Linked DNA regions of Homo sapiens. The protein of the gene in region 1 interacts with the protein of each later gene in a pairwise test. Each region holds a gene or a part of one and is shown on either strand. Other genes may lie near its edges.

Evidence for each region. The genes of interacting proteins can lie anywhere in the genome.
Region 2: the proteins of PSG11 (region 1) and ARMS2 interact in a two-hybrid assay, tested with the Homo sapiens proteins (one study listed by IntAct).

Annotation. Positions count from the first base shown.
Region 1 is NC_000019.10:43,023,670-43,027,719, forward strand, and holds the start of PSG11 (pregnancy-specific beta-1-glycoprotein 11 isoform 1 precursor), read right to left. Parts: upstream 2,801-4,050; 5' UTR 2,704-2,800; coding exon 2,640-2,703; intron 1,388-2,639; coding exon 1,022-1,387; intron 1-1,021.
Region 2 is NC_000010.11:122,453,299-122,457,452, reverse strand, and holds ARMS2 (age-related maculopathy susceptibility protein 2), read right to left. Parts: upstream 2,801-4,154; 5' UTR 2,726-2,800; coding exon 2,429-2,725; intron 547-2,428; coding exon 520-546; 3' UTR 101-519; downstream 1-100.

The DNA of each region.
Region 1 (4,050 bases):
TGGAGGAGAGGATGGGCCTGTGGCTGCAGACAGACCTCATGTGACCCTGATCTCCCCTTTGCGTTTGTGTGACTCTGATTCAGTGACTGTGCCTTCCTGTGCCTCAGTTTTCTCTCAATCAGATAAGTTAAATGGCAAATGGACTGTGGCTTTTCATGCTATCTGTGAATAAATGTTAAATTATTCACAGTCACCTGACCTAATGCTTGGCACAGTGGAGGTGTTCACACAAGCAGCATTTATTATTAATTTGCTTCCATGAGAAAGCACCTTTACGTCAGATCCCTGTGGACAAGCTGCTACCAGGTACATCTTCTCTCTTCTGTTTCTGCTTCTGAGGACATTAGACTTTCTATGGACTGTCCTAAGCCTCCTAAGGCAGTTGGCTGATGACCTACAAAGCTTGTCTTTCTGTCCTCTCCACTCTGAGTGTCAGGTGAAGAAAGCTCTGTCCTTGCCCAGATGAGGCTCTGAGGGCTGAGCCCTGGCTGGTGAACAGCTCCAGGAGACACAGTCCTCAGACAGCTGGTAAATTCTTGGTCCCAGTAAGCCCTGCCCAAGAAGCCACAACCCAGCCCTGGAACAGGCTCCTCAGCTTTATCTGGAACAAGGATTTAGGTACAGAGTTCTGGGTTTGAGGCTTCTAGGGCTGAGCTTCTCTGAGAGTATCTCAGGGGCCCCTCAGGTCAAATTCTACTCAGTTCTCCAGGGTCTTTCTCAGGGTCAAATTTATGAAGAGGGCATGAGGTGCTTGGCTGAGACTGATCTCCTCCTGCTGAGTCCCCCCATCAGACTGTCCTTCCTCTGCAGCGAGTGTCTGCAGGGTCTGGATGCGGGAAAGGAATTCTGATCTGTTGAAATTTGTCTCCTCTGTGTGTGTCCTGCACTAAATGCCCAAACCCCAGCATGGGACATAATGCAGAGAGGGACACAGGCAATGTCCAGGCCTGACAATCCTGTGTGTGTGATGTAGAAGTGACCCCTGTCCCCCAACACCCAGGGATCATGTGGAATCACTTACGGTATAAGGTGAAGGTGAAATATCCAGTTACTCCTCTAGTCCCATCACCTCGCTTTATGATGTGTAAGGTGTAGGATCCTGCGTCCTCCCGGGTGACATTCTGGATCAGCAGGGATGCATTGGAATATACTGTTTCTCGTCCACTGTATGCCGGTCCATATATAATTATTTGACCGTCTACTACATATGATGTAATGTAATGGTAGAGGTCCCTGATTTGCCCTTTGTACCAGATGTAGCCAGTAAGATTCTGGGGCAAATTGTGGACAAGTAGAAGAACATCCTTCCCCTCGGACACTTTGGGTGGCTGGGCTTCAATCATGACTTGGGCAGTGGTAGGCAAGTTCCAGAAGTTTAAAAGTAATGCTAGGAGGTGGAGAGAGCATCAGTCAATATTGAGACCTATGTATTGGGGTGAAAAGATGGGGCCCTGAGTCCTGAGAAGGTCTCTTCAATCCTCAGCCTTGAAGACACACACACACACACACACACACATACAAACATACACACACAGAAAAGGGGCATGTGTGTTTGTGTATGTGTATGTGTGTGTGTTCTACTGTCCTACTAGGTCAAGGTCAGCAGCATGACCCCCATTCCTTCAACACTTCTGACCTTGGCATTTTTCTGTTTGGAATCCTCTTCCCCAGGGGTCCGCATGGCCCCCTCCACACTGCCCTCAGGTCCTGCTCACATCAGGGCATCCTTAGACTTCTTTCCTGACACCTCCTTCAGGGACTCTGGGTCTTCCCTTTCTGACCTTTCCCTGCTCTGCTCCCTCCAGGGTTCTTGTCAACACCTGACCTCACATTCTAGATCTCTTTGCATGTCTGACTTCCTCCCCATGGCAGCATGAGCTCCGTGAGGACAGGGACTTTTGTGATCTTGGTTGCACCCCAGTGCCTGGAACAGGCTGCAGACTCCTGTAGATGTGAGAGTTCTCAGGGCCGTCCACGCCCTGGGTGTTTTTTTTTTTTTCCCCAATTGTTGAGGTTTTTTATTGAGGACAGTGTTTCATGCCCTGTTTATTTTTATTTGTAGTGTCATCTGATATAGTTATTATTATCATTTTTCAAAATGTGGTGGCCCCTGATGATTAATCAGGAAAACAGAACACCTGTTTCCTACCTCTTACCAATTCCGGTTCAATGTGACTTTCCTGTTTTGACCCCTGTCCCTCTTGGGTGTATTTTCCCCTATCCAGGCATCAACAGGGCCTTCTTTCCTTTTTTTTTTTTTTTTTCTCTTTTTTTTTTTTTTTTTTTTTTTGAGATGGAGTCTCGTACTGTCACCCAGCCTGGCGTGCAGTGGCACTATCTCAGCTCACTGCAACTTCCGCCACCCTGGTTCACGTGATTCTCCTGCCTTGGCCTCCTGAGTAGCTAGGATTACAGGAGCACACCACCATACCTGGTTAATTTTTTGTACTTTTAGAAGAGACAGGGCTTCACTCTGTTGGCTGGACTGATCTTGAACTCCTGATCTCGTGATCCACCCACCTCAGCCTCCCTAAATGCTGGCTTTTTTATTTTTTAGAACCCCAGGAGCCTCTCCAGGAGACCCCATCCAGTCACTCTGCTTCCTCCTCCTGTCCTCTCCCAGGAAGTTCTCTCCTCACCTGTGAGCAGGAGCCCCTTCCATTTGATGTGCTCTGTGCAGGGAGGGGCTGAGAGGGGCCCCATGATCTCTGCTGCGTGCATGTTCTCCTCTGTGGAGATGAGCCTAGGATCCAGAAGCTTCCAGAGCACGGCTGTCAGCTGTGCTGTCCTTCCTCCTTCTGCGCTGAGACTCTTCCCGGTGGAAGGAGCACTTCTCAAGCTCATGGGCAGGGTCAGGCCGAGGACACCTCTCTGTCCCCTCCTCTCTCAGCCCTGCCTCCTTGTCCCTCCTTCTGTTTTTCCTTTTGTCTGTGTTTCAGGTCCCTGGGAATTGTGGAGGCCTCTGCCTTTTTCAGCAGTGATTCTTTCACCAAACCTCAATACACACTTTGTGCGGACACACACATACACACACACACAGAAGAGACACACACAGACCCACACAGTCAGACACATACCCTGCAGGTTGGGCAAGCAGAGTCCTGGGCCTCAGCCTCCTGCTGTCCCCATTGCTCTTGGTCGGGGTGCACATTCACACCCTTTGCCCTCTTTCATCCCCGTCTGGCTCTCCCCTTCAGTGCAGGAGGCTGGAGCTGCACCAGGTCCCTGTCAGAGTGACACCCCATTGTGCTGTGGGTGAGCTGTGTGTTGCCTGGTGAGAGGGACCCTTCTTTTCTCCAATCGTGTCTAGCTTGGCTGCAGCTTCCAAGGATGGACATTGAGGACCTGGGTTTCCCAGAGGAAACTGTCCTTCCTGGAGGTGTGCAGGGTGAATCTTTCATGCCTCCTGGGAGGAGAGGCCTGTGCTGGTTGCTCAGTGGGGGCTGTGAGTCCCATAGTCAAAGGGAAAGTTCTCGGTCACTCTGTGACTCCATGGGGTCTGGCAGCTGAGCTGGAGCTCTTGGTTTCTCATGTTCTTCCTGACAATCTTTGATGTCCTTTCTTCTCTGCCGAGCTGATTGTCCTGTGGTCACCACACCTTCCCCGTGGTGGTGCAGGAGGAAGTGGGGAGTTACCCAGGAATCCCGCGGGACATGACTTATTGAGACGCAGGAGGAGGAGCCTGGGACAGAGCAGGGGTTCAGAGCTGGAGAGATTCATCCCGACTTACTCCGTGGCCATGATGGGCTCAGCCCTCCATGTGCTGAGATACCCAGGGGTCTGTCCTGAGGGTTTTGACCTGGCCAAGCTGCTGTGTGTAGAGGAGGAACAGGCAGTGGCCAGAGATCCTGTCTGGAGGGACGTAGCTCACACCTGAGAGGGCGGGTGGGGGTGAGTTGTGTTCTGGGAGCAAAGAGCAATAACACCCCCCTTCTCCCCGCAAGCACACGGGAGACGTCTGTCTTCCCAAGAGACAGCTGGGGGTAGGTGGCCACATCCCGGATGGTGCCTGTGTGTGACCATCACACGCGCTCTGAGCCCTCCGGGGTT
Region 2 (4,154 bases), on another chromosome or scaffold:
TCTAGAATTTTCTGCAGTGATGGAAATAATCTCTATCTGTGCTGTCCAAGAGGGTAGCCACTAACTACATGTGACTGCCAAGCATTTGAAATGCAGCAAGTGCAAGGATGATCTGAATTTTTATTTAATTTTAGTTAATGCCTATCACCCGGGAGAGAAAGGAGGGCAAGAAAACAAAGGCAGGATGACAGGAGGGAATGCAGTGACAGAGAGGAATCCAGATGTTAGGAGAAGATTGGGCTGCATCTCAAGGGTTGAGAAAGATTTCACCAGCTGCACAGAGCAGAAGATGCATCCAATTGGTGATGACGTGATGAGTCCGCCCAGGTGGGGAAATTCCAGGTTGCACAGTGTGGCCGCAGGTGGGAAGAGAGTCCTGTGGACAGTTGAGGCAGCTGGAGGGAAGGGGACCAGTCTAGGTTGTGAGGGACTCCCTCTGTCCTCCTAAGGATTTTTGGCTTCACATTGATGCTGATGAGAAGCTCCAGTTGGCTTTTAAGGAGATATGTTTTGGCAGAATCACCTTGCTGCAGTGTGGATGATAGACTGAAAAAAAAATAGATTTAGTAATATGCATTTTTAAAGACACATGACGATATTTTAGGTTGAGGAGCACTTTAAATTAAGTTGAAGATGCAGTTAATGTAACTCAATAGGGTAAGAAGTATAGACATTCCATTCCTTTTGTAACAATTAATTTATTTCTGTATGATCTCTTCAATGTAGACCCCCTCCTTCCAAAATAGGACAAAGGTGAGGAAGTTCAAAATACTTTTGAGAACTTTTTTTTTTTTTTTTTGAGATAGAGTCTCACTCTGTTGCCCAGGCTGGAGTGCAGTGGTGCGGTCTTGGCTCACTGCAACCTCCACCTCCCAGGTTCTAGCGATTCTCCTGCCTCAGCCTCCCAAGTAGCTGGGATTACAGGTGCTGCCACCATGCCTGGCTAATTTCTGTATTTTTAGTAGAGATGGGGTTTCACCATGTTGACCAGGCTGGTCTCAAACTCCTGACTGCAAGTGATTTGCCCACCTTGGCCTCCCAAAGTGCTGGTATACAGCCATGAGCCACCATGCCTGGCCTATTTTTGAGAATTTCTGAAGCACTTTAGAATTACAATACCAGCATTTCTTTTTTTCTTTTTTCTTTTTTTTTTTTGTTTTTTGTTTTTTAGATAGGGCATCCTCTCGAGCCAGAGTAGGCTCAGAGACTCCAGCACTAGCATTTCTAATATCAAATCAAAACATTCATGTCTATTAGTTAAATATAGATACTTAAAAGCCAACCCCAGGCCTGCTGCTGCTCAGTTTCCTTTTAAGCCTTTACATTCTATGTATTTGTTAAGATCTATAATTCAGATCTTTTATTAATTTAGGCGAACCCTTCCCCTAAATCAGTTGCATGAGACCAGCAGTCCATCTTTGCATTAATTGGCTCCTTCCAACATATTTGCTTTAGAAAATTAAAAGCATGGCATGTGATCAAATTTTTCACTCTCCATGGTAAAGTATCAGACAGATACAATTCAAACAGAGCCCCAGGCAGCCACCGAAAGGTCTTGAATGACAGCTTGTCAATTTCTGTCACTCGGGAGCAGCTTGAAAAGCTGAGCGCGCTCACATTTAGAACATGCTGCCATTTAGGCAAAATGGTTTAACATTGAATCAAGGACATTATGAGCCAGAATTTTAAATCTGCTTGTAAAAAACAAAAATTAAGAGAGGGAAGGGGTTCAACCTTTGTGTTCTCTCATTTGTCTAATTATATATACTATGGCAAGCACAAAGCGCCACAGTTCCGTAAGCATTAGAAAGCATTTACTAAGCTTATTTGGCAACATGGTCTCTAAGCTGCTTGATGTCTAAATTTTAAACCAACGTGACCTGTAAGGCCCAGATTCTTTCTCTACAAACTTGCATTGTTGTTTTCTTACACATACAGCCAAGGCATTTTTTTTAATCCATAAATGAGCAGGAAAAATGAGCACTGGAAAGCCGTGAGAATATTGAAAGAATGGTACAGCTTTCTAAATGACTCCTCTAACAACCCGGACGAGAAGCAGGCTGAGGTTTCCACCTCCTTCAGTAAACCCTAAAGCCAATTCACCGGCTTGAGGGGCCACTCAGATGGCCTTCTATAAGCTTTGGGTTTCTGCTCACCCCATCACTTTCTCAGACCTACTGCGTCTTCTTGTTTCCTTTTTCTGGCATGTAGCAGGTGCATTGGAAGTATTTACTGATATTCCCAATTCTCCAGCTATTCAACCAGAGGAAGGCTGAATTGCCTAGGCCTCCCTGTGGCCAGTGGTGCTCAAACCTGAGCATGCATCAGAAGCACCTGAAGGCTGGTTAAAATGCAAGCTGCAGGGCACCACTCCAGAATTTCTGATTCAATAGGTCTGGGGTAAGGCCTGATCATCTGCATTTCTTACCAGTGTCAGGTGGTGCTGAGGCTGCTGGAACCTCCTCTGGGTTCCAGCAGGAGAGAAGAAGGCTGGTAAGCAGAGCTCAGTGTGGATTTTAGCAGCTGGGATCATGGAGTGTGATAAAGACAGTTTGCTCCTCTGCTTGTCACTGGCTCCTTCTCCACCAACTCCAGGGTCCAGCACAGACTCTCGCAGAGTGGAAATGAAGGACACAGGAACCACCGAGGAGGACAGACTTGCCATCTCAGGCCCTCCTTTCCCCTCCGCCTCAGTTACCATCGGTCCTGGGTATAGGCGCAGCATGTAGGGTACAGGGACATAATGTGGTGACAAAGGTGCTGTCCCCTTGCCAAGCCAGCTGCCATCTCACTCAGCCAGGAGCATTGTCTTTTCCCGTCACACAAAAATGCCCCCAGGAGTCAGGGCGCCCTGATAACTCCACCCTGAATTGTTGGGTGGTCTCAGGGAGGGTCCACCCCTCAGTCCTGCTCTGCCAGAGGAGGCAACAGAGGTCCCTAGTATCCATTGAAATCATCTGTGAAGCTTTTAAAAAATGCAGAGACCCAGGGATTTGAAAAAAAAAAAAAACCTTGATTGTAGATCATAGTATTGAATCAATGTTGATTTTCCAATTTTGATCATGTTACTGTGGTATGAGAAAATTTTTTTTAAGAAAAACACACTGAAATATTTAGAAATAAAGGACGTGCAACTTAAAGCCTCCAACTTAAATGTTTTAAATGTTTCACATGCTTTAAATGTTTCCAAGAACTTGAATGATGTAGCGAGGGTGGTAAGCATTCGGGAAATCTGAGATAAGGGTCAATGAGAGTTTTGGGGGTTTTGGGATTTTTTGTTGTTTTTTTGTTGTTGTTGTTGTTTTACTATTTTTCAACTTTTCTCTAAACCTAAAATTATTTCAAAATAAAAAACTTTTTTTTTTGAGATGGGGTCTCATTCTGTTGTCCAGGCTGGTGTGCAGTGGTATGACCACAGCTTATTGTGGCCTCAACATCCTCGGGCTAAGGTGATCCTCCTACCTCAGCCACCTGAGTAGCTGGGACTACAGCTACAGACCACGCCCAGCTATTTTTTATGTTTTTTGTAGAGACCAGGTTTTGCCATGTTGCCAGGCTGGTATCGAACTCCGAGCTCAAGCAATCTACCTGCAAAAGTGCTAGGATTACAGGCATAATCCTAGCCCAGGCCCCCCAGCCTTTTTTTTTTTTTCTGAGACAGGGTCTCACTTTGTCACCCAGGCTGGAATCCAGTGGCATGATCATGGCTCACTGCAGCCTCATACTCCTCGGCTCAGGTGATCCTCCCACCTCAGCCTCCCAAGTAGCTGGGACCACAGGTGTGCAGCACCACGCCTGGCTAATTTACTTTTTTTTTTTTTTTTTGGAGATGGGGTCTTACTATGTTGCCCAGGCAGGTCTTGAAGTCCTGGGCTCAAGTGATCCTCCTGCCTCGGCCTCCCAAAGTGTTGGGATTACAGGTGTGAACCACTTCTCCCAGCCAAACACTTTTTTAAAAGGAAAAAAAAAGCCGGGCGCCATGGCTCACGCCTGTCATCCCACCACTTTGGGAAGCCAAGGTGGACAGATCACGAGCTCAGGAGATCGAGACCATCATGGCTAACATGGTGGAATCCTGGCTCTACTAAAAATACAAAAATTAGCTGGGCATGGTGGTGCGTGCCTGTAATCCCAGTTACTCGGGAGGCTGAGGC